4 linked regions of the Homo sapiens genome follow. The protein of the gene in region 2 purifies or fractionates together with the protein of the main gene of each other region. This does not show direct contact. Each region holds a gene or a part of one and is shown on either strand. Other genes may lie near its edges.

Region 1 (7,623 bases), on a different chromosome or scaffold from region 2:
TACTTGACAGACAAAAGCAGAGTGATTATTTTAAGAAGATACTGGTAACATCTGAGCTTACTGCAAAAGCAACAGGAAGTGGCTACAAAATTATTACAGTAGTACAGTATCTACTACAGATAATTTTATGCAACTAAGATTTAATGCTACATCTTTGCTTGTTTACATTTATCTCAATTGCAAATAGCTCCATGTAAGATCTGTGTTTGTGTAAGTTTTGATAAATTTTAACTTTTTATAATAGATTTGTGTATATTTTATGGTAGTAAATGATAAACTAGTATCTACACATATGCATTCATGGCATAATTTTTTCTTAATTTTTTCACTATTTCTAGGCTATGCAAGTTTGCTAAGTTTTTCAAATTGTTGCAAATGTCAAAACAATTTTCCAATATGTTTATTTCAAAAAATTTGTGTATAAGTGGACCCGTGCAGTTCAGATCCATATTGTTTAAGGGTCAACTGTACTTGCTAAATGTGTAGAACCGGATTGTCCATCACAACCTACTTCGATAATGGAAAAGCTTTTATTTGCACTGTCCAGTACAGCAGACTCTAGCCACATGTAGCTATTGAGCACCTGAAATATGGGTAGTGAAACTGAGCAACTAAATTTTAAAGCTTATTAAATACTAATTAATTTTAGCTTAAATTTATCCAGATATGATTAGTGGCTACAGTTTAAGTCTAGAAGATCACAAAATATTAGAATGTAACAATCCACTGTTCTCTGCTACATAAACTTTCTGTACCCCTAGGCTTTAAGTGACATTTTAAAAAGCATATTTTTGATGTTATACTATTTTCAGCCCAAGTATTTGAAGTGTTTCAAGAGAGTATATACAAATAAAAACTGTTTTTTTTAAAAAATGAAATGTCCTGAATCCAACATTACGCTGGTAAAGAAGAGAGTATAGGAAATAGTATCACAACCACTAGAATATTCACACAAGATCTCTTCTCTATATTGCCACACTTCAGTTCCTGATCAACCCCTACCCCAACAAAGTCCCATCCCATACTTACCCATAAATATCAATTTTAAATTGGTCCTAATATATTAAAAGTAAGTACAACTACGCACTTAACTAAATGGGTCCACCATATTCCCAAGACATTTCCCAATATTCTTTCTAGATTTTTCAAGAGCAAAATGTACCAGACTTTTCTGTATCTCCCACTCTTAGCTATCTGATGTTAGCTGCCTTTCCTAACTTTATGGTTCTTTCCGTCACAATTCCTGCATCAAATTCAATTCTCTGATGGTCTGACGCCTTGCTCCCTCTGTTACTACTAAACCTGGAGAAATAAAATATCCAAACTTCTCTTTTGGGCTCCGTAAAGTAATGCTGTCCCTGGTCCCTATTTCTGGGTTTAATCAGTAAATTATTTCATCAAGATCTTCGAAGTTCAAAAGTTCCTATCACATATACAATCAGATTCCAAATAACTTTAAGCTTTCACTAAGCAAGCTTCTAAATTCAGACTAGTAAACTAATTTAACTATCAGTCAAAAACTTGACAGACTATTTGGGAATGAGAAATGTATTTCTTTGCTACTATTTGTTTTGTTAAAAATAGAGCTTAAACAACATATGCCAAGCACTAGTGACATAAAAATAAAAAAGACTCAGCCCCTGCCCTTGAGGAGGTCACAGCAAAGCAAGAGATTTATAAAAACAACTATAATACATAAGATGAACAATATAAAAAAACTTTGCATAAAGCACAGCAGGAACCCACCTATGGGAACAGGTTTACCTGCGTAGGAGGTCATGTCTGTCTGATTCCAACTGCAGCCTCAGAACATAGTCACCGGTGGACTCATATCTCTTACGTGAATAAAAGTGTTATCTTCACCTGAAAATCCAGTTGATTTAAGTCCCTTTCAGCTCTTGGAATTATAATTTTGTGATTAAGCTACTTTAACATCTATCTAGAAGAAACGTGGAAGTTAGGGAGCTGTTTTTATGAATGAGGAGCATAAAGGTCCTACCACAGTGCCTAGCACACCAGGGAGAATTAGATACAGATTTGCAGAAAAAAAGAACGTAAAGGCAGCTCTTATTGTGACTTCTCTCATCTCTCCTAATAATTAGCAAATTTTAGAATATCCGGACCACTTCCGCCCTTAATCACCCACCAGTTAAAGACACTGAGCAGCATCATTCAATCGCTCACACAAAAGTGCAAGTGCGTTCACAGCGCCAAAGAGGGGTGGGTGGAAATCTTAAACTGCTCTTACAAGCACTGGTAACAGTTTGGGAAAATACGTCCTACAGCATCCCACGCGTAGGTGAACTTGGGCTCTCCGTGTGTTCAGTTTGGAGGACATCGACCACACACACCAATCAGCCCAGCAGTGGACGATTGTACCACCATCGTCTTCTATCTGAAATTGTTACAGCGCTTCTCTGGTCACCCCCATCGGCCTCAAAGCCAAACCTTTACGAGGACGGAGGCAGGAGAGCTAATCTGATCCTGAGGTCAGAAGACACGAGGCTGTGCAGCAGACGGCGCGGCGGACACGCGGGTGTGCAGGGCCGGGAGGGGCTGGGGTGGTGCGAGGTGACTCGGGGCCCGGAGGTCAGCTGCAGCAGCCGGGTCCCGACGCCTCGGAGGCGTGGCGGCGGGACGGCGAGCGCCCCCGTTCCGGCGGGTCCGCCGCCACCAGTGGGCGCCCCGACGGTCTGGGCCGGGGTCCGCCACGGGCTCCTTACCCGTAGTAGCGGAAGGCATTAATGATCTTCCAGAAGTGCTCACGCTCAAGCCTCTCCTCCTCCTCCTCGGTGCTGCGCGTGGCCGCCGCCGCTGCCGCCGAAACCGCCGCGGCCGAGCCCCAACGCCCGGCGGAAAACTGCACTTCCACCTCCTCGCTGCCACCGCCTCCTCCCCCGCAGCCCTCGGGCAGCCGGGAGGTGGGCGGCGGAGGGCGACGCCGTCGCTGCATCGCCGCCGCGGCCCTCGGCCTGGCTCGCTTGCGTCTCTCCGCGACCGACAGCGTGGTGGCGGCTGCTTGGCCTTCCTCTAGACGGCGCCCGCCGCGGACATGCCCCCAGCTCGCGGCGCGCTCCGCCCCCGCCACCCTCAGGCCTCCATCCGCGCTGGGCTCCGCCAGGTCTTCAGGGCTCCCAGAACCAATGCGCATGCGTGTGCCTTGGTACGCGGAGGGCCCGTGCGGTCTGCGCTCATTTGCTGCCGGGCTTCGGAGACAGCGCGCTGACGTCACAACCACGCTTCCAAGGGCGGGGCCAAGGCCCCTTGGTGGGAGGCGGAGGAGGAGCTCGTAGGTGGGGTGGGACTGGCACTGCCGTTACCTGTGCGCGGCCGCGTGGGTGGGACTTAAAAGCCGGCGAGTGCCGGATTGTTGAGCTGGAGGCTGAACGCGGTCCCAGGCACTAGCAAAGAAGGGAAAGGCAAAAAGGAAAAGTTCGGCTTTGATGATTTTATTCGGAATTTTTATTTCAGAAAGTCTAGAAGGAACGTCTTGTATCCACCCTAATTTAAGTTTTAATTCACTTCCTAAATGAATTCCTATTTTTAATTACTTAAGGGGGTCGGAAGTGGGCGCCATCATCTTTTCACTTTTTTTTTTTTCCCCACTCTGTCGCCCAGGCTGGAGTGCAGTGGTGCGATCTCGGCTCATTGCAACCTCTGCTTCCTGGGTTCAAGCGATTCTCCTGCTTCTGCCTCCCGAGTGGCTGGGATTACAGGCGCGCGCCACCACGCCCGGCTAATTTTAGTATTTTTAGTAGAGATGGGGTTTCACCATGTTGGCCAGGCTGGTCTGGAATTCCTGGCCTCAGGCGATCCACCCTCCTCGGCCTCCCAAATTGCTGGGATTACAGGCGTGAGCCATCGCGCCCGTCCCATCTTTCCAGTCTTTAGGGGCTTGCGGCAGTCCTAATTCCTCCTTTACTGAGGATGGCAACAGATGAGGAAAATGCAAGGACCTTCTATCCAGCACCTGGTCTTGGGAAGACCATTACACCTACCAGCATCTAAGGGTGGCTCTTGGGAAATAACTTATTCTGGGGCCGGGCGCGGTGAATCACGCTTGTAATCCCAGCACTTTGGAAGGCCTAGGTGGGCGGATGACGAGGTCAGGAGATCAAGACCATCCTGGCTTACATGGTGAAACCCCGTCTCTACTAAAAACACAAAAAATTAGCCGGGCTTGGTGGCTGGCGCCTGTAGTCGCAGCTGCTCTGGAGACTGAGGCAGGAGAATGGCGTGAACCCGGGAGGCGGAGCTTGCAGTGAGCCGAGATCGTGCCATCCAGCCTGGGCGACAGAGCGAGACAGCGTCTCAAAAAAAAAAAAAAAAGAAAAGAAAAAGAAATAACTTATTCTGTTCAATTTAATCCACCACCCAGCAAATGAGTCTTACAAAGTAATGATAAAAGGGAAAGATTGCTTTATTCGAGGGGTTAAATATGCCCAGTGACCACAAAGTCTGTTAAAAAGTTACAACCATATTGAAAGTGAAGTGGCTTCATATTTTCATAATTTAAATTAATAGTTGAAATAAAGGTAATGCTTAAAATGACAACATTTTTATATAAAAGTTTTCTAAAACGTGAGTCTATTAATAGTAATGCAGTAATACATGTTTCAAAATTCAAAAAGAAAGTGCAAAGGATTACAAATATGAATTGGAGACAGTCTCGCTCTGCTGCCCAGGCTGGAGTGCAGTGGCACGATCTCAGCTCACTGCAACCTCCCGGCCTTCCAGGCTCAAGCGATTCTCCTGCCTCAGCATCCCGAGTAGCTGGGATTACAGGCATGCGCCACCACACCTGGCTAATTTTTTGTATTTGAAAATACTAAAGTAGAGACGGGATTTCACCATGTTGCGCAGGTTAGTCTCCCTGAACTCAGGCAATCCACCTGCCTGGGCCTCCCAAAGTGCTGGGATTACAGGCGTGAGCCGCCACGCTCGGCCAAGTGTGAATAATTGTTTTACCTGTCCCTAGCCAGCTATGTTCCTCTCCAGACACAATATACCAATTCCTTGCCCATTCTTCCAGATTTTCTATCTAATGTCTATTTTTCCAAACACTAATTGTTCGGAAGTTATGTATAAACACTCATAGTAGTAGCTGTTTCTAATACTGTTCTCATGTACACATGCACAGAAGTTTTACATGTTGTAATTCATTAAATGTATTGATATAGGTCTGAATGACCTAATTGATAAAGGCCAGAATGTCATGGATAAAGATAATCAGCTCCATACTTTGAAATATCCTCGGAGGTAGAATAAACATTTTCAAATTAAAGTTATGTGCAGAGGCTTCCTTGACTCTGTCTCCTAACTTGGTGAGTCTTAGAGTCTGTGTCATGAAGGTGCTCAGCTTTAAACTCAGTTGTGATCTTACAGGTGAGGAAACCAGGGAATCAGAGATATTAAGTGATCTTCATACACCCACCCTCCTCTCATACCTATATTTATCAATATTTGTTTATGACTGTGACTGTACTTTTTAAATATTATGCTAGCTAACATTTGTTTAATTAATATTTTTCAAATTGTTTTCCCAGTTTATCACCTTATTTGTCCCTTAGCTCTGTGAACTAGATGTCATTATTATCTTGCTATAAGAAATGAAGAAATAGACTCAAAGAAATTAATTTTCCTGCCCAGGGACACATAAATAGCAGAGCTGAAGTTAAGTCACTCATTCATTTATTCTTTTTTTTTTTCAACAAACATGTTGATTGCCTTCTATGTTTCTTTGCCCTGAGCTGAAGGCAGCAGAAGCTACAAGTATGGGCCTCTCACTCTCACTTCACCACCTAGTAATTCCATAACCTGTATGAAACATTATGTAAAGCTTCAATTGCAATATTTCTTATATTTCTTTTTCTTTTCTTTCTTACTTTTTTTTGAGTGGGGTGGGGTACAGAGTCTGGCTCTGTCACCCAGGCTGGAGGGCAGTGATGTGATCATGGCTTACTGAAGCCTTGACCTCCTGGCCTTACGTGATCCTCCCACCTCAGCCTCCTGAGTAGCTGGGACAACAGGCATGCGCCACCACTCCTAGCTAATGTTTTTTTAAATTTTTAATAGAGATGAGGTCTCATTATTTTGCCCAGGCTGATCTTGAACTCCTGAGCTCAAGCGATATTTCTGCCTTGGCCTCCAAAGTACTAGGATTACAGGCATGGGCCACCAAGCTCGGCAATTGTAATATTTATGAAATAGACATATTACCCTTTTTACAGGGTCATTGGGAGGAATACATGAGATAAAGACTGAAAAATGCCTGGTATATAGGCTCAATAAATCTTAGTTACCTTCCCTACTCTCAGTTGTCTTTAGAATAAAGTTTTAGCCTTGTTTTAAAACACTTTTCTTAGGACTTCTTTGACTTAACTTCTTTGCAGTGAGTTTCTTCCACTGATATCTTCCCAAACCATAGAGTGATTTGAGCTGAAAGATTTGGAATGTTTTTATCAGAAGGAGACCAATTAATCTCCAGGAATTAATAAGTAAAAAGCACCATCGTGCTTTTGTTAGTTATTCTGAAGAACTGTTGGTTAAGCACTTAAACTGCTTACATACATTTGCACACTGCTGCTGGAAATGTAACACGGTGCAGCCACTCTGGAAAAGAGTGCAAAGCAGGTTTGCTGTGCACTGGTTACCAACTGAGTCTGGTGAGACAGAACACCCATGTGTACAAGTTACATGAAGTGAATTTATTATTTACAGCTAGGCAACAAGGGAAAACCGAAGCATAGGATTCACTGTGAGCCAATCTCCCGAGACTCAGGAAAGTTGCCCCGGAAGGATGGAGTCTCATTTGTGTGTACCCCATTTGTACCACAGCTGAGTGACCCTGGAAAGCAGACCATCTTGGGTTTTATATTCTGGAGGCAACATGACATGTTGGGCTAAAATGATGAAGGACATCCTGTTTCTAGGAGGGACTGGAACAGAGCCTGGGCTGTTTCAGCCAGTCCCTCCTTATCTCAGGATATTGCATTCCTAGCACATTCTACAGTTATTCTTGAGAACTATTAATACAAGTGAGAAACTGGGGAGAAGTTGATCAGTCCAAGGCCACTGGGAACTGTCATGCAAAGAGTATAGTGATTTTTTTTTACAAAACTGAACGTGCACTTACCATACAACCCAGCAATTACGCTCTTAGACATTTATCTCAGATAAATGAAAACATGTACACACAAAAACCTGTACATAAAAGTTCATAGCAGCTTTATTTGTAAAAGCCAGAAATTGAAAACAACCCAAATGTCCTTCAGCAGATGAATGGTTAAACAAACTGTAGCTACTCAGCAATACAAAGTAATGAACTCTTGATATATGTAATAATTTGGAAGAATCTCAAAGGGATTATGCTGAATGGAAAAAAGGGCAATCTCAAAGGGTTACATACTGTATGATTGTATTTATTTTACTTTATTTTTTTTTTTTTTAGAGACAGGGTCTCACTGTTTCACCCAGGCTGAAATGCAGTGGTGTGACAGTGGCCCAGTGCAGTCTTGAGCTCCTGGTTCAAGCGATGTTCCTGCCTCAGCCTCTGTGAGTAGCTGGGACTACAGATGTGCACCACCACACCTGGCTGATTTTTTTTTTCTTTTGTGAGACGGG
Region 2 (7,883 bases):
GCATTCTAGCCTGGGCAACAGAGCAAGACTGTCAAAAAAACAAAAAAAGAAAAATCAATGAAGTCACAGACAATCTGAAAAAATTATCAACCACCTTGACCTAATAAACATTCATAGAATACTATACCCAACAACTGTAGAATGTTCATTCTTTTTGAGTGCACATAGTATGTTTACTAAGGTAGACCCTATTCTGGGCCTACGAAGAGTCTTAATAAATTTAAAAGGATTGAAATCATACAGAACACTTTCTTTAGTTGCAGTGAAATTGAATTAGAAGTCAATAAGAAATACAAAAAAGACTTTCATATTTGCAGTTTAAACCACCATGGGTCAGAGGAGAAAGCCTGTAGAAATCAGAAAATATTTCAAACTAAATGATGATGCAAAATATCAAAATTTGTAGGACATAACTACAGAAGGACATAGAGAGTATGAGTGCTCGTATTAGTAAACAAAAAAGGATAGAAATCAATGATCTAGGTTTCCACTTAAAAGCTAAAGAAAGAAGAGCAGGCTGGGAACAATGGCTCACTCCTGTAATCCCAGCACTTTGGGAGGCTGAGGCGGGCGGATCATAAGGTCGGGAGATTGAGACCATCTTGGCTAACGTGGTGAAACCCTGTCTCTACTAAAAATACCAAAAAAAAAAAAAAAAAAAAAAATTAGCCAGGCGTGGTGGCAGGCGCCTGTAGTCCTAGCTACTCGGGAGGCTGAGGCAGGAGAATCGCTTGAACCTGGGAGGCAGAGGTTGCAGTGAGCCAAGATCACGCCACTGCACTCCAGCCTGGGCGACAGAGTGAGACTCTGTCTCAAAAAAACTAGAAAAAAAAAAAGAGCAATATAAACCCAGAATAAGTATAAGAAAGGCAATAATGAGAGAAAATCTATAGAATAGAAAACAGAAAAACCCTGAAAGTAATAAAGTTAACACAGACATTATGGCTATTTGAAAAGAATAATAAATCATTAGCGAAACTCATCAAAGAGAGAGAGACAAAACTAAGTTATCAAAATAAAAGAGAGGACATCACTATGATTGCTAAGGATAATAAGGGAATATTGTGAGCAACTTTATGCCAATATATTTAAGAACTCAGATAAAAGAGACAAATGACTTGAAAATTTTTACTTGCCAAAAGAGACATATAAAATAATAGAAAATCTGAAAAACTCATATCTATTATAGGATTTGAATTTATTATCAAAAACCTTCAGACACATACATACCCCAAAAGAAAAACAACAAAAATTATCACCAAGTCCAGATGGTGTTACTGGTGAATGGTATCAAACATTGAAAGAAGAAATAATGCTAATCTTATAAGACTCTCAGGAAACTGAGTTTATTTTATAAAGCCAGAATAATGAGTATACCCAAACTTAGAAAGACATTACAGAAAAAGACAATGATAAATCAATATCTCTCATGAATACAGACACAAAAATATGCTTAAGAAAGTATTAGCAAATCAAACCTAGCAATATGTAAAAAAGATAATACATCATGACAAGTGAAATTTGACCCAGGAATTCAAGTTAGATGCAACATTTGAAAGTCAATTTGATTAAACATTTGAATAGCATAAAAGAGAAAAACAATATAATCATCTCAATAGACGCCAAAAAATAACATTTGATACGTTTCAAAGTGTCAAACGTTATTGTTTATTGTTATATTTCACATTCTATTAATGGTAAAAACAGCAAAGTAGAAATGAAAGGGAATTTGATCTGGTAAAGGGCATTGTCTCACTCCATTTCCTGCTGCTATAACCAAATACCACAGACTGGGCAACTTATAAAGAAATTTATTTCTTACAGTTCTTGAGGCTGGGAAGTCCAAGAGCATGAAGCTGTCCTCTGGTGAGGGTCACCACACAACAGAAGAGCAGAAGGCCGAAGCAGGCCTAGGTGAGAGAGAGGGAGGAAATCATGCCAAACTCATTATTTTTTATCAGGAACCCACTCACATGAAAATTAACCCAGTCCTGAGACAATAGCGTTAATCCATTCATGAAGATGGAGCCCTCATAAGCTAAATCACCTCTTAAAGGCCCCACCTCCCTGGTCAACATGGTGAAATCCCGTCTCTACTACAAATACAAAAATTAGCTGGGTGTGGTGGTGGTGCGTGCCTGTACTGACAGCTACTGGGGAGGCTGAGGCAGGAAAATCGCTTGAACCCAGAGACAGAGGTTGCAGTGAGCCGAGATCGCACCACTGCAGTCTAGCTTGGGCAACACAGCGAGACTCATCTAAAAAAAAAAAATTGGCGGGCATGGTGTCTCAAGCCTATAATCCCAGCACCTTGGGACGCCAAGGCAGGCAGGTTGCCTGAGCTCAGGAGTTTGTGACCAGCCTGGGCAACACGGTGAAACCCCGTTTCTACTGAAAATACAAAAATTAGCCAGGCACGGCAGCATGTGCCTGTAGTCCCAGCTACTGGGGAGGCTGGGGCAGAAGAATTGCTTGAACCCAGGAGGTGGAGGTTGCAATGAGCCGAGATCAGGCCACTGCACTCCAGCCTGGGCGAAAGAGTGAGACTCTGTCTCAAAAAAAAAAAAAAAAAAAAAAAAATTCAACATGAGTTTTGGAGAGGACATTCAAACTACAGCAGGCATCTATGAGGAAACTATAACTAACATCATATCTAATGGTGATTAATTAGATGTGTTCTAAGATATGGAATAAGATAAGCATGTCTGCTTTAACTATTTCTATTTAACATTGTACTGGAAATCCTATCCAGGGCAATTCAGCAACAAAGATGAATAGAAGGTATAAAGATTGGAAAGGAAGAACTGAGACAGTTTTTGGTTACTGACAATAGGATTGCTTACATAGAAAATCCTAAATAATCTATAAAATAACAACTAGAAATATATCAATTTAGCAGTACCATAGCATACAAGGCCGATGGACAAAAATCAACTGTATTTCTGTATAGTTGCAACAAACAATTTGAAAATAAGGGAAGCTAAATCAATTCCATTAGCAATAGTAACAAAAATAGTTAGAAATATGTTTACAAAAGATATGAAAGATTTGTACATGGAAAGTTTGCAAAATATTGTCAAGCTTAAGTAACAAATATCTAAATAAATAAATTTCATGGATTGAAAGACTCAAAATTGTTAAAATGTCAATTATTCTCATTCATCTCTACATTCAATGCAATCCCAATTAAAATTCCAGTAGGCTTTTTTAACTGAAAAAAATTATTCTATATTTAATATATACGGAAATGCAAACCATTTGGGAGGTGGGTAGTAGGGGGAGGACTTGAACTGCCTGATTTCAAGACTGACTATACAGCTCATAATTAGGACAATGTGGTAATTAGCATGAGAATAGCCAAATAAATAAACGGAACAGAATAGAGTCCGGAAATGGACACATACATATATATGGTCAATTTAATTTCAACAAAAGTGATAAGGCTATTGGATAAGGAAAAAAAGTCTTTTTTTTTTTTTTTTTTGAGACGGAGTTTCCCTCTTGTGGCCCAGGCTGGAGCGCAATGGCTCCATCTCGGCTCCCCGCAGCCTCTGCCTCCCGGGTTCAAGCGATTCTCCTGCCTCAGTCTCCCGAGTGGCTGGGATTACAGGCATCCGCCACCACGCCCCGCTAATTTTGTATTTTTAGTAGAGGCTGCGTTTCTCCATGTCGGTCAGGCTGGTCTCGAACTCCTGACCTCAGGTGATCCGCCCGCCTCGGCCTCCCAAAGTGCTGGGATTACAGGCGTGAGCCACCGCGCCCGGTCGAAAAGAGTCTTTTCAACAAATGGTACCGGAACACCATTAAAATATGGAGAAAAATGAACATCAATCAGCGCCCCCTTTCTCTTACCCACTCCTCAGCCCCAAGGTCGCCCTGGGAGTTCTTCGCAGGCAGGACCGTGACTCGCGTGGCTTTCGGGAGGCTGATTACCCACGCCCCATGCCCGTGCAGCGCTGGGTGCAGAGGAACCGCTGGAAGGACCTGTCCCCCGTGGGACCCCCACCAAGTCTCATCCCGTGTCATGTGCCAGATAGTCTCCCGTGGTTTAAGGACTTTCAAGACTCTTAACAGGTTAGGAAAATCCAGAAGAAAGGCAGAATTGGGTCCCTCGGGCTTGCCTGACACCAGGGACGGTGGAGTTGAGGTGACATTTCACTGGCATGGAGACCTGAAACCAAAAGCAGGATGAGCCGGGCACGGTGGCTCACGCTTGTAATCCCAGCACTTTGTAAGGCCGAAGCGGGCGGATCACGAGATCAGGAGCTCGAGACCAGCCTGGCCAAAACAGTGAAACCCCCGTCTCTACTAAAAATAGAAAAAAAATTAGCCGGACGTGGTGGCGGGCACCTGTAATCCCAGTTACTCAGGAGGCTGAGGCAGGAAAATCGCTTGAACCTGGGAGGCGGAGGTTGCAGTGAGCCGAGATCGTGCCACTGCACTCCAGCCTGGGCGACAGAGCTTGACTCCATCTCAAAAAAAAAAAAAAAAAAAAAAGGCAGGCTGAATCACTCGCCCGGTAGTGACGGAGGAGGCCGTAAAAGCCTCTTAGAGGCCAGACCCCGCAGTGGCCTCTGTGTCCTTCATTCCGCCACCCATCCGTCCACCGAGCGCCTGCTGGGTGCCAGGAACTGGGTCACAGAAAGGCTGAGGTCAACTCCCGACCGAGAAGCCTGGCGCTGGGACCAAGTGGCAAAACGACTCCGAATGCAGCGGCATCCACGCGGCGGCCGTGGTTGAGGAACAGAAGCTGAGAGCGGCAAGGGCGGTCACAGAGGAAGGAAGTTCAGGGTTAGCCAACAGGAGCCGCAGGTGCCCCGAAAAGGGGGCGGGGTCAGGGGTGCCCTGAACTCCGAATGCGAAGTTCTGTCTTGTCATAGCCAAGCACGCTGCTTCTTGGATTGACCTGGCAGGATGGCGCCACCACCAGCTAGAGTACATCTAGGTGCGTTCCTGGCAGTGACTCCGAATCCCGGGAGCGCAGCGAGTGGGACAGAGGCAGCCGCGGCCACACCCAGCAAAGTGTGGGGCTCTTCCGCGGGGAGGATTGAACCACGAGGCGGGGGCCGAGGAGCGCTCCCTACCTCCATGGGACAGCACGGACCCAGTGCCCGGGCCCGGGCAGGGCGCGCCCCAGGACCCAGGCCGGCGCGGGAAGCCAGCCCTCGGCTCCGGGTCCACAAGACCTTCAAGTTTGTCGTCGTCGGGGTCCTGCTGCAGGTGAGTCCCCACCGCGGTCCTGCCTGGGGAAAAGCGCGCCTGGCACCGGGAGGGGGCAGAGAGAGAGGGGGACGCGGCGGGGGTGCCTGGCCCGGGTCACTTGTGGCGGGGCATGTCCGGGCAGGAGGAGCCCGTCGTCGGAGTCGGAGGAAGAACGGGGTCCCCGGGGCCAGGCAGGAGCGACCCGGGCCTGGAGGCAGCAGAGCCCCCTCCCGCAGGAGGCTGGGCCCGGGGACTCCACCCCGTTGGCTGCTGCCTGGCGCGTCTCCCTCCTGCCCACACCTCACGATGTATCGGGAAGTTTCGGAATCGATAGAGCTCAAGTGTGTAAACTTCCAAGCCAACTCCCAGCCACACCAGCTGCGTGAAGGGGAGCGCCATTCTCCCCACTCCCTGATTCCCTCCCCACCCCCGTCCTTCTTTTCTTCTCTTCTTTTTTTTTTTTTTTTTTTTTTTGAAACGGAGTCTCTCTCTGTCGCCCAGGCTGGAGTGTAGTGGCGCGATCTCGGCTCACTGCAAGCTCCGCCTTCCTGGTTCAAGCGATTCTCCTGCCTCAGCCTCCCGAGTAGCTGGGAGTACAGGCTCCTGCCACCACGCCCGGCTAATTTTTTGTATTTTTAGTAGTCACGGGGTTTCACTGTGTTAGCCAAATCCGCCCGCCTCGGCCTCCCAAAGTGCTGGGATTACAGGCGTGAGCCACCGCGCCCGGCCCTCCATCCTTCTTTTCTTAGACAAATTGGTTAAACACGCAGCCCGGCAGGAAAAAGTAACTTTCTCTCCTCTGCTCGTTGTCTTCCGTTTCGAGTCCACTGAGCACACCGGCAGCAGTTTCCTTCCAGCCACTTTCTTGCGCATCAACAGGTACAGGGCAGCGAATTGACCACCACGAGGCAGGCAGCCAGGAGCGGGGCACGCCCTTCCTTCAGGAGGCAGCGTTTCCTGTGAAAGCAATCACTCAGTCTGGAAAAATGCCAATGCCTTCAGTTCTCTTTCAAGTTCATTAAGGCTCTACCAATTGTTCTCATCCAGATTCCTTCTATGTTAAGGAAAAACAAAACGAAAGCTAAGTACCTGAAGGATAAACCAGTCTTACAAGTGTCAGGAAATTTTACGTGTTTTTGTTTAACAAACTAAACAAAATCCAGGAATCCAATAGCATTTTGAAATCTCCAAATAATTACAGAATTTATGTTTTAAACGTCAGTTTATGTTAGGTGGAACCCACGTTTGACTCTTATTTTTAATACGCTTATTAAATGGCTTTCTTTTTGACAGGCTAGTGCGATTCCAGGTGGATGTAGGGCTCACCTGTATAGACAAGGTGAAACATCTGAATTTGGTGGTTTTGGAAATGTCACAGTCCGTTGGTGTGGCTATAAAAGAATACTTGAGGCCAGGCGCGGTGGCTCACGCCTGTAATCCCAGCACTCTGGGAGGCCGAGGCGGGCGGATCACGAGGTCAGGAGATCGAGACGATCCTGGCCAACACGGTGAAACCCCGTCTCTATTAAAAATACAAAAAATTAGCCAGGCGTGGTGGTGGCCGCCTGTAGTCCCAGCTACTCGGGAGGCTGAGGCGGGAGAATGGCGTGAACCTGGGAGGCGGAGCTTCCAGTGAGCCGAGACCACGCCACTGCACTCCAGCCTGGGCGACAGAGGGAGACTCCGTTTCGGAAAAGAAAAAAAATAAAAAAGAAAACTTGACGCTGGATAATTTTAAAAGAGGCTTATTTGGCACATGGTTCTGCAGGCTGTACAAGAAGCATGCCACCAGCATCTGCCTCTGGTGAGGCCTCAGGAAACTTCCACTGGTGGTGAAGGGGAAGGACAGCTGGATTCTGCCCATCAGGGGAAGGGGTGGGGAGGATGGCAGGAGGAGGGGGATGAGATCCGGAAGGGAGACGGGGAGGGGCCAGGTTCATTCTAACAACCAGGTGTCATGGGGAACTAAGATTGACAACTCCTGGGGGAATGTGGGAGGGGGCGGTTATGGCACCAAGCCTTTCATGAGGGATCCACCCCAAACCCCAACAGGCCCCACCAGCTACATTACGGTTCAGATTTCAACGTGAGCCCTGGCAGGGACAAAGGACCCGTAGCAGACACCAAGGCCTTCTGCCATCCCACAGGACCCTCTCATCCCACCATCCCTCAGCCTTCTTCCTGTGCATTTATAGGCACCTTAACTTTTAAAATTCTGACTGAAGAACAAATCGCATTGGATGTTTTCTATCAGTACATGCAAGTATCTCATTCTTTTTAACAGCATCATAATATTTAGTGCATGGGTGAAACACATGGCGTGAACCACAGTTAATTTTAATCTTCCATCCCATGGGCAATTGTTAACATTATGTCCTGCTTTTGTTTTTTCTAATTCCAGCAGCATTGTAGTGAGAACCCTTGTATGTGTCATATGTCCATATGTCAATGTTCCCTGAAGTATCGGGCAGCCCTTTAGAAGAGGAATTTTTAGGTACATGAGCTCATCAATGTAGAATTTTGTTTGGATATTGCTAAATTGTACTTCGGGAGAAGATTGTGCCAGTTTTACTCTCACACCAAGAATACAAAAGTGTGGCCGGGTGCGGTGGCTAACGCCTGTAATCCCAGCACTTTGGGAGGCCGAGACAGGTGGATCACGAGGTCAGGAGATCCAGACC
Region 3 (7,019 bases), on a different chromosome or scaffold from region 2:
AAGGGGCTAGATTTTCTTTTATACTTTGGTTTAGAAAGGGGAGGGGGGGGTCTAGTTAAAACAATTTTACAGAAGTAAAGTAGGCAAAAAAGTTAAAAGGATAAATGGTTACAGGAAAGTAAACAGTTCCAGGTGCAGGGGCTTTAAGACTATTACAAGGTGATAGACGCGGGGCTTTGGGCGTTATCAATCTGACGAATTCCTGAGAACTGCGGATATTGCTGGCCACAGTATCTTATCAGTTAATTGCATTCTTGGATGTGCTGGGAGTCAGCTTGCACAAGTTAAGTCCTTGCGGAAGGGCTGCCAGTGAAACAGCCAAGATGGAGTCTGTCTGGCTCTCTTAGCTAAGGGAGAGTCAATTCAGGTGAAAACAAGGCTAAGTGATTAAAGGAAAGGGAGAGTCTAAAAACAGCGTTAGTAAAAACAAGGTTGGGCATTACATGATCACTGGGTCTCCACTGTCAGAGGGTCTTTGAGCTCAGTTCTAGTGGCAGCCTCCTGATCCTCACTTCCCTGGCTGAGGCAAGGTTGTTGCAGCAGCCCCAGGAGTCTTTGTTAGAATCCCACCCCAGAGCTCCTTCCTCCAGTCCTCTCAGCAGTTTTGTTAGTTCCAGTATTAAGTGTAATTTCTACAAAAAATGCCTGGAATATTTCTGTTTCCAGAACCGGATGCTCCTGTTAGCTAGTGTGTGAAAGATAACTCTGACTTGCCTAAGCTTTGTTGATGTTTTGAATAATAATTGGCGATAGTCTCTTGACTTCTGCAAGAGAAATGAAACAGAAATTGGTCTCAAGTTTTAGTTGCTCTTGTGAAGGTCAGGGACAGTTTGTACCAGGGTGTGGGTGTGGAAAAGAAGGGGAGATATAGTCATTAAATTAGAATATGCCTGTGAGGGGAGTTAAGGGGAATTCCTTTAAAATTCTAGAAAACACACACAGGTGCCAATTTTGTCTGGCTAGGGAAAAGTAAACTGCTGAAAACACTTGGGGGGAGAAATGAAGCTAATGGTATCTTGATCAGTCAGGAGGATTGGGTATTTGAAAGCAGGGAAGAAAAATAATTGGACTTGGATATTCCTTTGCCCCTTCATCTGAGTAAGGTGAAAGCAAGTGACTCTTCAGAAGAGGCGAATGGGACACTGAGTCCAGCAGCTCAGGCAGGGTGGAGTTGGTAACTGATGGGCACAAGTCTTTTACTGGGCTCTAAAGAACTCATTCATCTGGGTGTGGTGGCTTACACCTGTAATCTCAGCATTTCGGAAGGCTGAGGTAGGAGAATCACTTGAGCCCAGGAGTTTGAGACCAGCCTGAGAAACACAGTGGGACCCTTTCCCTACAAAAAACTGAAGACCTTATGAGCTTCCCTAGTCTAAGAGTAATTTTTATGTTAATTTCTTGGCTTGGGCTTAAACCCCAACAAAGTGGTGATTATTCGGACCCCAGCCCTACCTCTCCCTAGTATGCTCTCCTTTCTCAAGTACTCACCACCTCTAGCCACAGTGAACTGCCTCCAGCATACACACACGCTGCTATTTTGTTGCATCTGAGTGGGCTGGCTCCACACGGGATCTGTAGTTTCCTTTTGATATTTTCTTTCAATGTGCCAGATGCTACCACTGAGTAATCTAGATTTTGCTGCCAAACTCTACCCCCGTTAGCACAGAGGGAAGACAGTATGCCAGTGCTCTTGCTGAGTGTGCGTGACTGGCAGAAAGCAGTCATGGGTGTGATGGTTGGAAGAAACAAACTGAGCAGATAATGTTTTTTAAAATGATTATCTCATTTTGTTAACTCTTGGTGGCATTGTTATATTGTTGATACTTATGAATTACAAAAGTTAGATGACTGTAAAAAAATAGAGAATTAAGCATTTCATTTCTAGTAGTTCTGTTTGGTTCTTTTTCAAATATGTCAGTGAATTTGTATAATATCTCATTTCTTAGTCTTGTGTTTAATGATTTTATTTTTGTGTTTTTATAATTCCTTCTACTGCATATATTTTATACTTTAATTTATAATAACAACTGTTGACAAAATTGTGACTATTCATTAATACAGTAGAAAAGAACTTGGCCTCCTTTTCATGGAAGCTGATGATGAGATTAAAGCACTGTTGGCCTGCGAGTGGAGTATAGATTTGGGCTGTCCAGAACACATAAAATTTGTATTTATCTTTCTGATAAAAAAAAGTAAAATAGTCTGAGTGCCAATTTTTCCACTTTCATTGAGCACATTTAATTTTAGTAAATTTAACTTAGCAAATTTAATTTCTCCAGTTATTTACAAATAATCATATTTAAGTGAAGTTGGGATGAATGGGCAAGCCCATTTCAAATTTCTAACCTAATTTTTCCTCTTGTTTTCATATAAAATTTTTCTATTTATGTGTTTTTATTTTAAGATAGCTCAAATCTTTTGTGGACTGATACTGTATGTATATAAATAAATGGATTCAGTGCTTCTTTCACTAAATACAGCTAGATAAATATATAAATATACTTGAACACAAATACAAAGCAACCATTGGCAATTTAGAGTTGGGTTGTGTTTCCACTTATTTTTTGTTAATAAATTTGATTTTAACCTGAAATATTGTCTTGTAGGAACAGATAAAGAACACAAGAGGTGATTTAACATAAGTTTTAGCTGTGAAACTTAGAGTAGATAGGTTAGCAACTTAAATTTTGAAAGAAAATAGGATGAGTTTCAATGGAAGAAATTAAGAACACACCCATTGCATGAGCTCCTTACCCCTCCTACCCAGCCCCCTCCCAGGAGTGAGATCTTTCCCCAGATCCTCTGTAACTTCCAGATGTTCCACTGAGAACATCAGAAGCACTAATGGCAATTGCTGCCATGTAGCAGTGCATTGAGAGTCAGGGCCTCTGGCACCTCCATGGGGCTCAGGGTCTGAAGACGTGATCCAAACCTGACAACTTGGTGGCAGGTTCTGTGAGCATTCATGATGTTGTGAAAAGGGCTTGGGGTCTAGGAGGATGGCAGCAGAGGTTTCTGCCCTCAGGTGTGAGTGAGGGGCTTTTGAAGTAGGAGAGCAACTAGAAAAAAGGAGTGGCACAGGGACAGAAACTTCTTTTCTCCATTGTTTGTTCAAGGCCACGTGGGTGGAGTCATTGAGGTGGAGGTTTAACTCTGTGACATAAGTTTCCCTGATTTAGTCAGGCTGTCTGTCGTTGGGCTTTTCCCACTTCCTTCTACTACGTACTTCTTCCCTATTCCTCCTACTGAGGCCATTAAACCCTTAGTTGTAATTTTCCCTGAACATGCTTTACATTCTGATGAATTCTGAAAAAGAATGTGGGGTTTCCTTGCAGATGAGTTCATCTGTTGTTTCATTTCCTTTACAATGTAGGTTTTCTTCTCTGTCTTTTTGGATTAGTCTGTTTTTGGTTCTGTCTACCAAGGATCCCTTTCTTTAGACTTCTATAGATCCCTTTCTATAGAACTTAATCTACTTAAGTCAGGGAGACCACCCAGAAGGAAAGAGCCCATACTTTCAATCTTAGGCATAAGTTAGCTTGATAAGATTTTCAGAAAAATTCCCTTTTAACCACAGAACTCCCCCACTGGAAAGGATTCTGAAAGAAATGAAGTCAGCCCTCAGAAATGAAGTTGACTGCCTGCTGGCTTTCTGTTGACTGGCCCGGAGCTGTACTGCAAGACCCTTGTGAGCTTCCCTAGTCTAAGAGTAGGATGTCTGCTGAAGTCATCCATCAGGTTGAAGAAGCACTTGATACAGATGAGAAGGAGATGCTGCTCTTTTTGTGCCGGGATGTTGCTATAGATGTGGTTCCACCTAATGTCAGGGACCTTCTGGATATTTTACGGGAAAGAGGTAAGCTGTCTGTCGGGGACTTGGCTGAACTGCTCTACAGAGTGAGGCGATTTGACCTGCTCAAACGTATCTTGAAGATGGACAGAAAAGCTGTGGAGACCCACCTGCTCAGGAACCCTCACCTTGTTTCGGACTATAGGTAATTCATCAACTCTTCCTGAGGCTGGGTGGGTGGGAGGGAGTGAAGTGTCTCAGACTCTACTGAATGGCAGAAACGAGGATAATAAGAAGTGCAGCCACTTTACTGTCTCTGCCCACTTATCCAACTGCCAGATGATGTCACTTCATTCCTGTGAGCCCTTTAAATTCTTGAAACTTGTTTTCTTGCTTTCTTTTTCTTTCTTTCTTTTTTTTTTTTTTTTTTTTTTTTTTGAGACAGAGTCTCACCCTGTTGCCCAGGCTGGAGTGCAGTGGCGTGATCTTGGCTCACTGCAACCTCCGCCTTCTGGGTTCAAGCGATTCTCCTGCCTCAGCCTCCCAAGTACTTGGGACTACAGGCGTGCGCCACCATGCCTGGCTAATTTTTTTTTGTATTTTTAGTGGAGACGGGGTTTCACCATGTTGGCCAGGCTGGTCTTGAACTCCTGACCTCAAGTGATCCACCTGCCTTGGCTTCCCAAAATGCTGGGATAACAGGCATGAGCCATTGCCTCCAGCTGAAACATGCTTTCTCAAAGGAATTGGGATCATATGCAGGTAGAAGGGCAGCTGGTATGTGTTTGCCTGAAGGATAGAATGACAAGACGTGAAGAAAGATAGGAATGACTAAGAGCTAGTCATTCTTGCCAGCCTCTGACAGTGTGAGATCTGCAGCAGTGTTTACTAGTTCATTTTCTGTGAAGTCAGTCCTTGATAATTTGTGGTACAAAGAAAGGAAATAACAAGTCTGACAGTAATCTTCCTACCTTTGTAGAGACTCCATCATCCCTTCTGAATCCCTGTTGGCCCTACCCTGCTGAGGAAGTTTATCAGGGTGGGCTCCCTTCCTGCACTTCCTGCGCTTGGAGACATTGGAGAGCCCACATTGAAAATCTCTTCAGTTAACCACATTTAAGTCCCTTCAGTCCAAAGAGGAAATGGCCACTGGAGTCTGCTTTAGTTCCCACAAGCTTTGGGTTGCTCCTTCCTCCTGTTCACATGTTAATGTCTTTAGAGGTTCAGAGGGGCATGGAAGCTACTGAGAGACTGACTTCCTGGGGAAAGGAAGATAACTTGTAACCTTAAGTTGGTGTTTTCTTTTTTTTTTTGAGACAAAGTCTCGCTCTGCAGCCCAGGCTGGAGTGCAGTGGTGCGATCTTGGCTCACTGTAACCTCTGCTTCTGGGTTCAAGTGATTCTCCTGCCTTAGCCTCCTGAGTAGCTGGGATTACAGGCACGCACCACTATGTCTGGCTAATTATTGTATTTTTACTAGAAACAGGGTTTTGCCATGTTGGCCAGGCTGGTCTTGAACTCTTAGCCTCAAGTGATCTGCCCTCCTTGGCCTCTTAAAGTGCTGGGATTATAGGTGTGAGCCACCATGCCCAGCCGGTGTTTTTTCTCTCGACCACCAGCCTTTTATTATGTTGATAATGTGTATTTGGAGATGATAATTATTATCAAGAACTATACTAAAGAGAGCTGAAAGCAGTGTGGGCTTTGGAAAGTATATGAGATTTGAACTTGGAAAGCCTGTTTTTTTGGTTTTTGTTTTTTTGTTTGTTTGTTTGTTTTTGAGACAGGGTCTTGCTCTGTCATCCAGGCTGGAGTGCAGTGGCATGATCATAGCTCATTGTAGCTGGAAGACCTGTTTCAAGCCTCAGATCTACCAATTATGGGCCAGGCAGGCTGGGCCAATCACTAACCTTGTTGGGCCTCTGTTTTCCTACTTGTAAAGCGAAAAATAATAATACCTGACTTTACAAGGTTGTTGTGAGCATCAGTTGTAATAATTTACTATGTGAAGTACTTTTTAAACTGTGAAGCACTCTACAGATAGAAGGGATTATTATCATTGTTATTATTATTATTTTTTTAATCTTCCACCTATTCAGCCATCAGTTTTAATGTCAGTAATCTTCAGACTTTCCGGGAGGCACCAACTGAGTTTCAGTGAATAGGGCAATCTCTCCATTTCCCATTTCCTTGCTATGATGAGTGGAGATTCTTCAGGCCCTCTGGGAAGGGTTGCGGGGGCAGTTGAAGAGGAGTGCTAGATTTATTTATTCATCTGGTGAGTGGGCTTCATTGTGTATTGGTGCTAAGTGTTTTGGTAAGCTCTAGGACAAAATGAAAAGTCTGCCATCCTCAAGAATCTGAGAGCCTAACTGGGAAAATGGCCTTGATGACAATGTCATGGTAACAATACTAACCACAGGGTGTCCTTAGGAGCCCCAGAAAAGTGTGGTTGTTGGTTCTCAAAGTCTATTTCCTAGGGGGGGAAAAATATATATATATATATATATATATAGTGTTAGCTCCAGCCACCAGTGAGTCAGGAGAGGCTTTCTAGGCAAAGACATCTAAGTTCAGAATCCTTGTGATCCAGATGCCTGTACCCTTTGAGTTCAGAGGTGGGCCAGGGTATCTCAGGTATTTCTTTCCTTTAGCATCTTGCAATTCAAAATATGGTCCTTGAATCAACATCACCTGAGAGCTTGTTAAACAGAGAAGGCTACTTCAAATTCTATTTCTGTCTTTTATGTTAGTCATTTGGGTTCTTAAGTCATTTCACTGTAACCTCTGGGGGAGCTAGGGGATTCTTTAAGGAAGTTTCCATTCTCTGAGTTGTTTTCAGAAACTGTTAGTTGGCAAAGGATGTACCATCTCCTATTAAACGGGCAAGGACAAGTTCCCTTTTCTGAGGTCCCTTAAGATCTCTTCCTGGGGTGATCTAGGCTTGCTGTTTTATGAGGGAGGGACATATTTACACAGGGGCAAGAACTAGTCTTTTAATCCATTGTTGCATAGGGGAGGCGTGGGCACTTGGAGTTGTCTTAGGACTGATGTCTGAATTAACTAAATGAACTTGTCTGGTTTGCAGAGTGCTGATGGCAGAGATTGGTGAGGATTTGGATAAATCTGATGTGTCCTCATTAATTTTCCTCATGAAGGATTACATGGGCCGAGGCAAGATAAGCAAGGAGAAGGTGAGTTTTCTTCTTTTGGTTCATGGCCCCAGGAGC
Region 4 (7,672 bases), on a different chromosome or scaffold from region 2:
TCCAGTGGACACGTGACCCATGTGACCTTACCTATCATTGGAGATGGCTCACACTCCTTACCCTGCCCCTTTGTCTTGTATCCAATAAATATCAGCGCAGCCTGGCATTCAGGGCCACTACCGGTTTCCACGTCTTGGTGGTAGTGGTCCCCCGGGCCCAGCTGTCTTTTCTTTCATCTCTCTGTCTTGTGTCTTTATTTCTACAATCTCTCATCTCCGCACACAGGGAGAAAAACCTACCGACCCTGTGGGGCTGGACCCTACAGGAGGCTGAGGCAGGAGAATCACTTGGACCCAGGAGGCAGAGGCTGCAACGAGCCAAAATTGTGCCATTGCACTCCAGCCTGGGGAACAAGAGCGAACGCTGTCTCAAAAAAAAAAAAAAAATACAAAAAAACTCCAACTCACAGCCAGCCCACAGGAAGGGTCCCAGCCAGCTAAGCCCAGAGCCAAAGCAGCAAGAACAAACAACACAGTAATCCCCACTGACCAAGCACCACTGCATGCCTGACACTGTGCACATGACCAAACCTGATTCCAATCCTGTCACAGGTCAGGCTACAGAGGCAAAGTGGGGCTGACCCATCTCCTGACCAACTCTATGTCATTGCCTTACCACGAGCCCTGAGAACAGTCTAAACAGGCCCTGATGGGGCCAAGGGAAGAAGAGCACCTTGACTTCCCCTAAGGACAGGCCCTCAAATCCCAGGACAGAAAAACTCAATGCTGTACAGTCCAGGTGGCAGCAGGGCTAGAAGTCAAAGCAGAGATGGGGATCCCAGTGCTCCTCCTGCTAGTCTGGTTACCTGGAATAAATGTGCCTCAGCTTTCTAATGTATCTCATTAGGCTTATTCTAAGGACTAAAAGAAGAACAGGCCTTGAGCAGGGCTTGGCCTACAGTAAACACCATGGAACTGTTTTTAACGTTAAAGGCCAACTCTTCCCAAACTAACATATAAGCCTATTGCAACTTCATTTCAAGTCTGGGACAAAATCAGGATAAAGGCAATTTGGATGAGTAAATGAATAGACACAGGTAAGAGATGTTTTAAAAAGAAAGGCAACAAAGGTATATAAGGACTTTCTATCTATTACAAAGTCAGCGTAGTAAAAGAAAATGATGTATCAGTAAGAGTTATCACAGAAACAAAACCTATTTATGTAGGAATTCACGTCATTGAAACAATGTGATTACAAGTCACTAGGGAAAAAAGTCCTATTGCATAAATTCATAGGAGGGAATTTCCCATTTTACAAGGCTGAGGATTTCTGTAGAGAAACACTCCCAGGATGCAAAATAGTCTTGTGTAGCCAAATCAGTTCAATACCCAGGCAGTCCAACTGCTATGCTCCTCCTACTCACCAGCCTGAACCTGAAGCTCTCCTGCAATAGCCCCGAGGAAGTTCACAGCAGATATCAGCTCCCCACCCACCACTCTGCCCACCTACAGCCCCTTGGCATAGGCTGGGCCTTCCACCTGGAATGTCCATCCCATCCTGTACTGAGACTTCAAAGCCCACCTTCCTCCTCCCTCAAGGCAACACAGAGCCCTAGAGAACCACTTGCTTCTCTTATCAGAGAGCCTGTCACCCTACACTGGCAAGGCTAGCTGATCCCCTAGACCAATAGCAGGACGACTCTGACATAGGGCAGAGTTTGCCAGCCCTTTTCTTGTGAGCCCCTGGATTTTCACCTGCTTCATCAAAACCCTAGACCAGGCTGGGCCAGGATCCCAAGGGTGATCCAGGGTGGCCATACCATCAGGCTGGGGCAGCATACTCCTACCTGGCAGGAGGAAAAGTGGGCCACCATAATCACCCGTCCAGTGCCCATCCTCAGCCTGCAGCCCCACGTAAAATGTCATCCCGTTCAGAGCCCCCTCAAAGGCGGTGTGGGCTTTGGGCAAGTCCTTAAAGTAATTCTTCTGCAAAGAGATCGAAAAAAAAAAAAAGAGATAGCTGACGGGACTGTTGCCCGGCCAGAGGAACCCTCTTCACATACAGCCCAAGTCAAAACAGTGAATGTAAATTACTTTAAAAGTTTCAGCTGTTTCCATCAAAAGTCTGAAACTCTTTGATGAGAGCATCACACCTCAGCAAAGTAAAAGAACAGCTGCACATTTTCGTTGCTTTATTTGCCAGTCATGTATTCTTCACAACTTCTCCAAGATGTCTGGAATAAACCAGGCACCCAGACTGTAGGGTGGGGCACGGGTGCCGACCTGGGCCTGGGACTCGGGCCTCTCAAAGAGGGCCCAAGGGGCGGCACAGCCTTTCCCTCGGTGGCCGGGGCTCGGCAGGAGACCCTGTTTACACTGCAGACTCTGACGACCAAAATCTCTTACAATGCACACAACTAAGACAGTGGATCCAAACACTTTTTGTGAATAAAAACAAAGTTACAACTATCTTTGCAACTCTCCTATAAGTCAAAAATTATCTCAAAATAAGGTGCTAAAAAATAAAACATTAGGAGTCTCCTATGCGTGGTTTAGAGATGAAGGGGCTGAAGCGGAGGGGCCCGCGAACGCAGTTCCCGTGGGCGCTCGCCTTGGGGATGGGCGTCGCTGGCCGGGTCCTCCCACCCGCCTTTCTGAGAGAAAACGTGCTCCTCACGGCTCACCCCTCAGGGTCCCGAGCTCGCTGACGCTCCGCGGAAGCAACTTACGGTGTCCAGCCCCAGGGCGTAGGCTTCCAGGCCGGTCTGCTCGCGGCCGGCGCGCTCGTCCTGCAGGTAGGTCCACGTCTGCCGGCCCCTCTCGCAGTTGAGTCGCCAGCGGCCGAGGTCGGTGGCGGGCTCGGTCTTGTAGGGGCCCCCTCGGCGCCGCAGACACCTGAGGACCACCGGCCATCAGCGACCCAGGCCCCGCCCCAACGCCGGCCGCCGGCCCACTGCCCCAGTCGCGCTCTCCTCAGCACCTAGGACCACCCCGCATTCGTCAGGAGCCCGGGGCGAGGGGACTCACGTGCCCTCCGTCATTGCTGCTGCAGTGCTCTACGCCGCCCACTGCCAGCTGCCAGATGTCCGCACCCGGGACCTGCCGCCCAGCCCCGCCCCTCCCGCCCCTCCCGCCCCTCCCGCCCCTCCCGCGCGCACTACGCAGGCGCAGGCCTCGGCAGGCGCTCAGGCTTAGGTGGGCCGACGCCCACGCAACCAATCAGAGCGCCGCGAGCGTGACCCCGGGGTGTGCCAGGCGACCACAGTGGTGGAGCGCTTGGTGCCCCATGCGGCGTGGGGCGGGGCCTGAGGGAGCGGGGATGGTGGGTGAAGGCGACGGGACGGGGGAGGCGGGTGGGGCCTTATTGGCGGGGCATGAGGGGCGGGGCTGGTGGGTGGGGAGGTGGGGGCGGGGCTGGTGGGTGGGGAGGTGGGGGCGGGGCCTGGTGGGTGCGGGTGGGGGCGGGGCTGGTGGGTGGGGCCGAAGGGCGGGGGCGGGGCCTCTCGCGCGCCCTCTAGAGGCTTGCGTCCCGGGAGCCCGGCCTCGTGCGCCGCGCTTTGAGGTGAGCCTCTCTGAGAAATTTGTGAGGAGGGTCCAGCCGCGGGTCGGAAGGAAGGACGTGGGGAGCGAGGCTCGAGCGAGCGACAGCGAGTGCGAAGGTCGGGTGGCAGGGAATTGCTCTCGCGCTGCAGGATTTGCCCGGACGCCGGGGCCGGGGGTGGGGGCGGGAGGCCGCCCTGAGGTGAGGTGGGCGCGGGCCGTCGGCTCCAGTGCGAGACCAGGGGGAGGGCGGGGCGGAGCGGAGGAGCCGAGGGCGCCGCCGGCGTCCCTGGGAAGCTGAGCGCCGCGTAGCTTCGCCGGGGGGAGTGGGGTAGGCGCGGTGAGGCCGTGGGCCCCCACACCTGGCGGACCACAGGGGCCAGAAGCCCTGGAGCCCCGCCAGGGAAGGGCTGCGTCGCTGGCCAGGACCGAGCGCGGTAGAGCCTCAGCTGCTCACGGGGTCGCTGGAGTTGGGGGTGGCCCCAGGAGAAATTAAAGGTGAAAAGCCTTAGCAGCAGAGGGAAGAGGAAGATGGAGGCAGAGCGAGTGACCGAACTTGGAAGGGACAGCCGGGCGCAACAGGGCAGGGGGCGTCTGACTGTTGGAAACATGGCTGACGTCTGGAGGCTGCAGCCAGTGGTCCGTAAGTCAGGTCAAGGACCCACAGAAGACCCCAGCATGTCTTCACCTGGCCCACAGAAGCCCTGACATCCAGTTACAACTGCCCCAGCCTAGTGAGCATTTCGGCACCCACTCCTCAATTCCTACCCCCAGCCTAACTTCGAAGGGGCGGTGAGCCACAGCAAGCCGGAGGAGAAAGTTGGAAGAGAGAGTGGACAAAAGAATACCCACAGGCACCTTCCCCACAGTGGAATAGCGGGGTTTTAGACAATCAAGGATAATCACCTCTTCCTATCCCAGTTCAGAAACGGATGAAAAAGACACAGCAATAAGATGGGTGGGTATCAAAATATCAGCTTTGCCACAAATTAAAAACCTAGCTTGAAGGACAAGGCTTAAATCTGCAAGCAAGAGGGCAAGCTACTAAATCACCCGTTAAGTCAGACAAACATATCCCCCAGCCTCTAGGCCATGAAACTGCCTCACCAAGCACTATGCAATTGAGTGCCCACCAGAAGACACCCCTCCAGTCAACCCACAGACCCCAGAAAGAGTACCCAGAGGAGCCTGAGCACACTCCACCCTATCTGTTCTCTGAAATTCAATCAAATGAGTCACTCTACTTCTCTGGAAGCAGAAAGAGGCTGGAAGTTTTTCTCCAGGTAAGTTCCTCCATGTAGAAACATGAAGAATAGGGATAAGGGGCTTCAGCCTGGATGGAATCTCACACTGAACCTGGCAAAGCTAGGTGAGGGAAGAGGTTTCAACTGGATAAGAGTTTGAGTTTTGATATCTTAATGGACTGGACTTTTTATGAGTAAAATAATCCGCTCTTTTTAATGTCTGAAAGAAAAGAAAAAGCTGTAAACTACGTCTGAGAATTGACACAGTTAAGCTTCTAGGGGCAGTCATGAGAAAAAACACTGTTCCTATCTGCTTACATACTACTGCATCCAGCTTATTCATTAAGCCAGATACAGAAGGCTCTGAGGATTTTGGCCTCAACAACTGGGTATATGGTGGTGGTCATTTACTAAAATAGAGGTGTCTTTTATTTATTTAGTGACAGGATCTCAGTCTGTCACCCAGGTGGGAATGCAGTGGCACAATCATTAGCTCACTGCAGCCTCAAATTCCAGGGCTAAGTGATCTTCCGGGCTCAGCCTCCTGAATAGCTGGGACTACAGGCGTGTGCCACCACACCTGGCTGATTTTTTTAAAGTTTGGTAGAGACACGGGGTCTCGCTATGTTGCCCAGGATGGTCTCAAACTCCTGGCCACAAGGAATCCTCCCACTTCAGCCTCCCAAAGTGTTGGGATTATAGGCATGAGCCACCACACCTGGCCTAAAATAGGGAAAGTTTGATTGGAAAATTCAGATTAAAGTGGGGACAAGTTATACTAGAGATGCTTATTAGACATTCAAGTGAAATATTGAGTAGGCTGGCATTCAGGAGAGAACATAATGCTAGAGATAGGAATTTGGGAGTCATTTGCTTTCAGGTAGTATTTGAAATCATGAGATTGGACAAGATGAATTAGGAAATGCACATAAAAAAGAGAAGTTCTAGAATGAGCCCTGGGGCACCGACCTTTTCCAGTATAGAGGAATGGCCAGAGAGAGGAGGAAAACCAGAGGAATATGAAGTCATAATATAAGTGAAGACATGGTGATCTTTGCTGAGGCTTTGAAGGGATTGCAAAATGAAGACAGAATTTATTATTGGATGCAACAAAACAATGTATTGGTGACTGACAAGAGCTATCTAAAGAGACATGGGGGGAAAAGCCTAATGGCAGAATTTTGAAAGAAATTTTCAGTTAAACATGGCAGACTGAGCATAAACATTAACCTCCATTTCCTGCCCAAACCCTACTCACATAAAGTAATAAAAGACCAAAAAAACCCCACAAAGAATGGGAGAGGAGACACTAGTAAGCAAGAGAAGTCAACAAAATTATAGAGACTGGGAATGGATGGAGAAGTGATAACTGAGTTAGCTAGAGAAAGTTGAGACTTACGTTTGTGGGTGAAGCCAACAAGAGACCATTCCTGCCAGCAAATACCAGGAAGGTGCAGAAATTGGAATAACTGGTGGAAAATTTTTGTGAGGAACAGTATGACCATAGATCCCCTCTCCTACTTGGGTGGAGGAAGTCTCCAGTAGTTGAATCAGAGTAGGTGTTACCTCAGGCATGAGGCATAGCTGAGGACCACTGAAAGCAGACAGATTGAGTTAAAGTCTACACATGTGGGTCCAGGCTCACTTCTCCCACTTAGCCAGATAGCATGAGATAGTGGGAGGATCCCTCTGGAGCAGCTGGCCCACAAGAGTCCTGCAAACACTGGCAACTATGACCTAGTAGAAAAACAAACCTATTAGCTGGCAGACTGTACCCATTGACAGTTTCCAACAAGCACCATCATCAGCATGAGCCAGACATTTGGGGAAAACAGTGCAACATTACCTCCAGCCATGCAAGTGATCCATCTTGGACCACTGACCCAGTCAAGCCTTCAGATGACTATAACCTCAGCCAATACCTGACTGCAGCTGCATGAGAGATCCCAACAGAAAGCTGCCCAGCTGAATCCTCCTCAAATTTAAGCTACTATATTTGGGGTAATTTGTTCAATAGCAACAAAAAAACTAGAAAAAAGGACTACAAAGTGCCCAGCACAATAAATTGGGCAGGGGTTGGGGAGGGAATGGGGAGGCAACATATGAAGTAATGTCATTGAGAAATTTGAGAACACCAGGAATAGAGATGATCTCAAAAATTTCCAGCAACAAAAAAAGCAAAAACACAAAGGAACGATTTCCAATCTAAAATTCTATTCTCATTCAAATGATGAATCAAACGTAAGGATAGATAAGTCCAAAAAACAAAAAAAAACCATTTCTTTACTCTCACAACATCCTTTTGGCACCAGATGTAGAGAATTTCTCCCCACCGACAAGCAAGCATTCAGCTGTACAGCAGACACCAGCTGGGTATCCGCTTCAATCCTGCACCGTCTACCTGGAGATAGCAGCAGATCACACAAGTTGAGGACTCTGTGCCGCAAGACTGAGCCCCATGTCCAGTGTCAATCACAAGCCCCAGGTTGTTTTACCTGTCCTTCTGGGTTCCCAAGACCCCTTCCTTGGCTTTAATTTACAAGAGCAGTTCACAGAACTCAGGGAAACACATGTTTATTACAAGGCTATTTTAAAGGCTACAAATAGCCAGATGAAAAGATACACAGGATGAAGCCTAGAAGAGTCCCAAGAGCAGGAGCTTCTGTCTGCAAGGAGTTGCGAAGTGCCATTCTCTCAGCATGTGGACGTGTTCTTGTCCACCTTCCTGGAAGCCCCCACACATTTGGCTATCCACAAGCTCTCTGAACCCTGTCCTTTTGGGTTTTTAGGAGCCCTCATTACATAGGCATGATTGATTAAATCATTGGCCACTGGCGATCAACGTCACTTTCAGTCCCTCTCCCCCAACCTCTGGGAGTTTGGGGGGTGGGCTGAAAGTTTCAACCCCTCTAATCATGCCCTGGTCTTTCAGATGTCCAGTCCCTATC

What was found.
Region 1: the proteins of TNFRSF10A (region 2) and CARNMT1 purify together in Homo sapiens (affinity purification with mass spectrometry; 2 studies listed by BioGRID and IntAct, with this or other methods). This does not show direct contact.
Region 3: the proteins of TNFRSF10A (region 2) and CFLAR purify together in Homo sapiens (affinity purification with western blotting; 5 studies listed by BioGRID and IntAct, with this or other methods). This does not show direct contact.
Region 4: the proteins of TNFRSF10A (region 2) and LSS purify together in Homo sapiens (affinity purification with mass spectrometry; 2 studies listed by BioGRID and IntAct, with this or other methods). This does not show direct contact.

The regions. Positions count from the first base shown.
Region 1 is NC_000009.12:75,025,289-75,032,911, forward strand, and holds the start of CARNMT1 (carnosine N-methyltransferase), read right to left. Parts: upstream 3,006-7,623; 5' UTR 2,954-3,005; coding exon 2,724-2,953; intron 1,864-2,723; exon of another isoform or gene 1,765-1,863; intron 1-1,764.
Region 2 is NC_000008.11:23,222,093-23,229,975, reverse strand, and holds the start of TNFRSF10A (tumor necrosis factor receptor superfamily member 10A), read left to right. Parts: upstream 1-4,873; 5' UTR 4,874-4,914; coding exon 4,915-5,220; intron 5,221-7,883. UniProt on the Homo sapiens protein: Receptor for the cytotoxic ligand TNFSF10/TRAIL. The adapter molecule FADD recruits caspase-8 to the activated receptor.
Region 3 is NC_000002.12:201,126,152-201,133,170, forward strand, and holds part of CFLAR (CASP8 and FADD-like apoptosis regulator), read left to right. Parts: exon of another isoform or gene 1-3,369; intron 3,370-3,577; 5' UTR 3,578-3,714; coding exon 3,715-3,995; intron 3,996-6,629; exon of another isoform or gene 6,630-6,877; coding exon 6,878-6,983; intron 6,984-7,019. UniProt on the Homo sapiens protein: Apoptosis regulator protein which may function as a crucial link between cell survival and cell death pathways in mammalian cells. Acts as an inhibitor of TNFRSF6 mediated apoptosis.
Region 4 is NC_000021.9:46,225,765-46,233,436, forward strand, and holds the start of LSS (lanosterol synthase), read right to left. Parts: upstream 3,011-7,672; 5' UTR 2,982-3,010; coding exon 2,968-2,981; exon of another isoform or gene 2,836-2,967; coding exon 2,670-2,835; intron 1,927-2,669; coding exon 1,788-1,926; intron 1-1,787. UniProt on the Homo sapiens protein: Key enzyme in the cholesterol biosynthesis pathway. Catalyzes the cyclization of (S)-2,3 oxidosqualene to lanosterol, a reaction that forms the sterol nucleus.